2 separate regions of the Homo sapiens genome follow, and region 2 is linked to region 1. A link means that fine-mapping ties the variant in region 1 to the expression of a gene that starts in the linked region. Tissue or cell type: whole blood. Region 1 holds a variant in brackets; the other region holds the start of a gene. All regions are shown on one strand. Distances are from middle to middle.

Region 1 (3,034 bases):
ATCACTTTGGCTGCTGTGGGGAGAATGACCTCTGGGGGGCAAGAATGGAGCAAAAGTGGAAACAGACCTTTCAGGAAGCTTCTCAAGCTGGACAGGCGAGTGATAGCAGTGTCCTGGATTCCGGTTGTGGTACCACAGGAGGTGAGAAGCGCTCTGACTGGGGCTTCATTTTGGAAGTAGGACTGACACTCCTGCTGATGAGTTGAACTTGCAGAGCAAGGGAAAGGGGAATCAAGTGTGGCTCCTGGGTTTTGCCTGAGCTACTGGGTGTCATTTCTGAGATGAGAAAATGGTAGGAGCGGTGGGGTGGGAGAGTCAGAGTTCTATCTTGTATATGTGAACTTTGAGACTCCAGTATCCCCCTCCCCACCATCTTCACTAATTCAGCAGATAACTGTTGAGCATCTACTTACTATGTAAAGCCCTCTGGTAGGCGCAGGGCAGAGAGCAGTGCACACAGCTGAGCCCCTGGCCTCACAAGTTTCCCTTCCACTAGCTACACTCCCAAACACATGCCAGCAATAGAAAACATGCCCAGAGACCCATGAAAATGGAACCTCAAAATGGACATTCCTCAGTTTCATGCAGGTGCCAGGGGAGTCATCGCTGTACATTTTAGCCCCTGTCCCCGAGAAGCTACTGACCAGAGTATAAATAGAAGTAGGATGTGCTGGATGTCTTCGCTGAATTGACTCAATAATCATTGGAGAAATTAACAAATCACTGGATTTGCTTGGGAACATAGAGATAAAACCTTAGTTAATAGAAAAAAACGGAGTCACTTGTTGCACATAGCATGAACATTAATGTTCTACTGAAGTCCTTTTGAATATGCCTTAAGTCCAAGTTGCAAAATACATGGTCTTAGACTTCGGGGACGACCCAGTTCTCTCTCAGAGCTCTGTGTGTACAGAGAACCTGGCAGAGGTGGTTGACTGACCTAGTTTTGTCATGATAAGGGTGTTTTCCCCAAGATTGGTTTCGGCAGAAGGCTGTTGCCAGGGCGTAAGGCAAGGGGCAGTGGCTTTCGAAAGCTCTGTGGGGAAAGAGGTATGATGTGATAAACCTCTGAGATGGGGATCAACTCATATGAAGTATACAAGAAATACCGTTTTTAAAGATATGGCGTTTATCAAGTCATTGATTCTTATGACCAAGTTAATTTCCATAACTTTGTAGCTTTTACAAACTGCCTTTTCAAAGCCCTGGGTAACTTCTTTCATTTACTGTTTCAGGAAAGGGTCACCAAGCTTGCACCCTGTCCCCAGTCAGAAGAGGATCTGGCTGCTCTGTTTGAAGCTTCAATGAAACTGTATTAATTGTCATTTTAACTGAAAGAATTACCGCTGGCCATTGTAGTGCTGAGAGCAAGAGCTGATCTAGCTAGGGCTTTGTCTTTTCATCTTTGCGCATAACTTACCTGTTACCAGTATAGGTGGGATATACATTTATCTTGCAGGAAATTCCCCAAAGCTCAGAGTCCAGTTCCTTCCATAAAACAGGCTGGACAAATGACCACTATGTTAGACCCCCAGGCTCGACTTCAGGGGTCAGTGTTCCTGTCCCAAACCCCACACAGAATACTCTGCCTCTG[T/C]TTCATGTAGCAAATGAGCAAAAACTCAGTATCTATCAAAAGTGTAAATTATATTTCCTATGCCTAGTAATTCACTTCATGTCTAAAAATTTATCTGATAGAAACACTAGCACCAGTACATACAGAAGCATGGCAAGGATGTTTCTGGCAGCACTTTTCTAATAATAAAAGATTTGAAACAACCTTAAGTATTCATTATTGGTATATAGATCACTTATAGTATACTAGACAGTGGAATACTATGGTACTGTTAATAAAGATGAAGTAAATCTCTTGGAAATGAGTCCATAATATACTGGGAAGTTGGCAGAAAGCAAGCTACCAAATAATTATATATTAGTATGATCTGATTTTTACTTTTTCAATTATACATAAACATATATCTACATATACATACAAAAGAAAGATACACATCAAAATTTAAAAGTTATTACTGGAGAAATGGAATTTGGGGTGTGGAGAACTAAGAGAAAATGTTCACTTTATTTATTTATTTATTCATTTATTCATTTATTTTTATTTATTTTTTTGAAATGGAGTCTTGCCCTGTCTCCCAGGCTGGAGTACAGTGGTACGTTCTCGGCTCACTGCAACCTCCACCTCCTGGGTTCAAGTGATTCTCCTGCCTCAGCTTCCTGAGTAGCTATTTATTTATTTTTTGAGACAGGGTCTCACTCCTATTGCCCAGGCTGAAGTGCAGTGGTACAATCATGACTCGCTGCAGCCTCCACTTCCCGGGCTCAGGTGATCCTCCCATCTCAATCTGCTGAGTAGCCGGGACTACAGGCATGCACCACCATGCCTGACTTATTTATTTATTTATTTTTGTATTTTTTGTAGACACGGGGTGTCGCCATGTTGCCCAGGCTGGTCTCAAACTCCTGAGCTCCAGTGATCCTCTCGCCTTGGCCTCCCAAAGTCCTGGGATTACAGGCATGAGCCACCACTCCCAGCCTCATTTTTTATTTTATAAACTTCTGTATTGTTTGGATTTGCTACAACAAGCATATATTACTTTTCTAACATTTATAAAAGAGAAGGGAAAGGAAAGAAAAATGTCATTTTAATGTTTTAGGTCAGATTCGTTTTATTTTATAAAAATACTAGTAACGTATTTAAAAGGTAAAAACAAATCCACAGGGGTAAAATATTAGAGACCAATCCTCTGGTGAATAAGTTGGTTTTTTTGTTTTGTTTTGTTTAAAAAAAAAAAAACAAAAACAAAAACAAAAAGCAAAAACTAACATCCTACATGGTTATTCCCTCTGGAAAAATGTTTCTGGTGCTCTGAATACATTAATTCGAAAAGAAGCAGTTTTGTAGGTTACAGATTACAGCATGCAAGTAGAATCCAACTAGTGTGATACTCTTCCTCCCTTTTATTCCCAGGCTACAGAAACCTGGACAGCTCATTTTTCCTTTCAAAAGTTAACCCACTGA
Region 2 (2,500 bases), 36 kb before region 1:
TTATACTTCTTTTGGTATCAAATATAATATTCAAAGTAGTAAAACTGATGTCTGTTTTTTAAAAAGATTTTATGCCTTTCAACACTGAACACATGGATTTCCTGTAAATGATCAATTTGGGCTTCATTGACTAATGGTAATAATCCTCATTAATCCAGAAAACACTTAAATCTTTCTCTACGTTTATATCCCCAGTTGTTTGTGTGTGTGTGTTTGTTTTTAAGCTTGACGTCAGGTATAGTTTTGTTTGGGGGAAGAAAGAAACAGACCCATAAGATCCTTAATTAGGACATTATTATCTTTTTTTAAGTTCCGGAGTAGATGTGCAGGATGTGCATGTTTGTTACATAGGTAAACGTGTGCTGTGGTGGCTTGCTGCACCTATCAACCCATCACCTAAGTATTAAGTCCCTCTGCCCCCTTCTATCCCCTGCCCCCAGGCCCCAATGTGTGTTGTTCCCCTCCCTGTGTACATGTGTTCTCATAGAACATTATTTTTTGATTCATTTGTCAAGTTGGCCTGAGCTGGTTTGATTAGGAGGTGAAATGTTTATATAGCTGTCCTTGGTCTTCCTGTCCATCAATCTTTTCCAGTTTGATCGCAGTAAATTCATTTCTGTAAAACTTAATATCTCCCATAAAGGATTCAGATTTCATAATAACAGATTACTAAAAATGCAAATGTTTAGTTGTTACTGTCTTTGGATACTTTCTGATAAAGTTGAGCTTTATCGTTAATCAGCTTTTCCACTGGGACATGGCAGATATGGCACAGCCAAGCCCTCCCGGAGCATAGTCTAATCATGGCAAGTTTTAACTATTGATGTAAGAGTTTTAACTATTGATTTTGCTTTCATCAAAAGCAAAGCCATTCACACAGTATTTAACAAAAACCCTCGGGCTCTGCTAGGTTCTTGTTTACTGTTAAAACAGTTTAAAGGCAGGGTCTTGATCACTTAAAATACTCTTAGAAGGGAAAGTAACATTTTAAAGGATTAACAGTGGAAAAAGAATATCCCTGTTCCTCTTCCTTCCCCCAAGTCCTCAACATGTGAAAAATAGAGTTGATAAGTAAGGAGATTTAAGGCAGAACCCGAGGCCTACGGAGCAGTTACCTTCTACGGCAATTTCAAGGGTGGATGGTGCGAGCGCCGCTGGGGCAGCTGGCGTTCTGGTTCTTACTCCGTGGGAAAATGGCCCTGAGCCCGACTGGCTTGAGGCTTAGACAGGTGACCCCGCGAAGCGGGTGGGCAGGCGCGGCCGAGGGGCGGGAGGCGGGCAGCCTCCGTGATTGGCCGGCGGAGGGGGCGGTGTAGCGACCCGAGGAGGGAAGAGGACTCCAAGCGCCATGGCCGCTGCCGCCCGAGCCCGGGTCGCGTACTTGCTGAGGCAACTGCAACGCGCAGCGTGAGTGCGGGGCCGGCGGGCGGGCAGGGGACCGCAGGGTGCCCACGCAGCCCCCTGGGTGTGACCCGCTCAGATCCTGCGCAGTCTTCTCCGCTTACTTTCAAGAATTCGGAGAATTTGGATACCGCCCTGGGCTCCCACCGCGCGCCAGGCGGAACAGCGAGGTCACAGAGTGCGCGATGCAGCCTCTCAGGGCGCAGTGAGGCAGCCTTTACTCTGCTTGTCTACCGTTAAAGAAACTGAGGCCCAGAGAGGACCTGGTCCCACATCGTAGCAGGCAGTGGAGAGCTTGGCACGGTGGCCAAGACAAATTCATGTATGCAATTGACACATATTTATTGGGCATATATTATGTGCCAAAAACTATTCTAGGTTCTGGGGATACAAAGATGAAAGGCTCTGGAGCAGTTTGAGGTCTAGTGGGGAATGGGATGAGGGGACGAGGCTAAAACCGGCTATAGCAGACTGGGTGTAGAAGGGAAGGATGGATGTGAGAAGTCGCAGAGTCACACTTCCTGGCATGTACAGGGAGTCAGGGTATTCAATGTCATGACACGCCTGCCTCCCAGCAGAAATGTGAGGTACATCCTGGTCACCTGATAAATACTTGCTGACTGTGCAAGTGCACAAGTCTGCCTGGGAAACATGGAAAAGTTTGAGCTCACAGGTGCAGATCAGTAGGAGGAAAGGCGAGGGACTGGCGAGGAACGTCAGGCAGAGAGAAGAGCAACACCAGCGATGGAGATGCAGTCCCAGGACACAAAAGACAAGTAGACCTACCTTTATAAGAGGAGGTAAAGATGGAGAAGACGGCTGATAAAAGACCATGAATAAGAATATAGCTAATACGATGAGCCCGGCAGTGTCTTACACACTTTGAATGGACTATCAGTATAATAGTAACTCTAATCCTTTCACTGACCCTATGACACACGGTATTGTCATCCTCATAGATACGGAAATAAAGGCATGGAGAAGAATTTGTCCAGTGTCACACAGCTAAGCAAATGGCACAGTCATAATTTGAACCCAGATACTCTGGCTTCACAGTCCTTGTTCTTAGGCCTGTAGTAAGGAATTTGAATTGTGTGCT

What was found.
Region 2: it holds the start of ADHFE1, and the variant in region 1 is fine-mapped to the expression of ADHFE1 in whole blood (INTERVAL, PIP above 0.99).

The regions. Positions count from the first base shown.
Region 1 is chr8:66,467,034-66,470,067 of GRCh38, forward strand. ADHFE1 (alcohol dehydrogenase iron containing 1) reads left to right here. Exons shown (of 14, transcript NM_144650.3): 14 at 1,236-1,874. The coding sequence ends at 1,319. Among named protein-coding and RNA genes, the nearest start is that of VXN, 25 kb to the right of the region's middle. The variant T/C (reference allele first, on the strand shown) is at 1,595.
Region 2 is chr8:66,431,169-66,433,668 of GRCh38, forward strand. It overlaps ADHFE1 (alcohol dehydrogenase iron containing 1), which reads left to right and starts at 1,336. Exons shown (of 14, transcript NM_144650.3): 1 at 1,336-1,407. The coding sequence starts at 1,349. It overlaps LOC102724687 (a long non-coding RNA gene), which reads right to left and starts at 1,198. Exons shown (of 5, transcript XR_929013.3): 1 at 1,116-1,198. RefSeq lists a silencer at 1,170-1,589.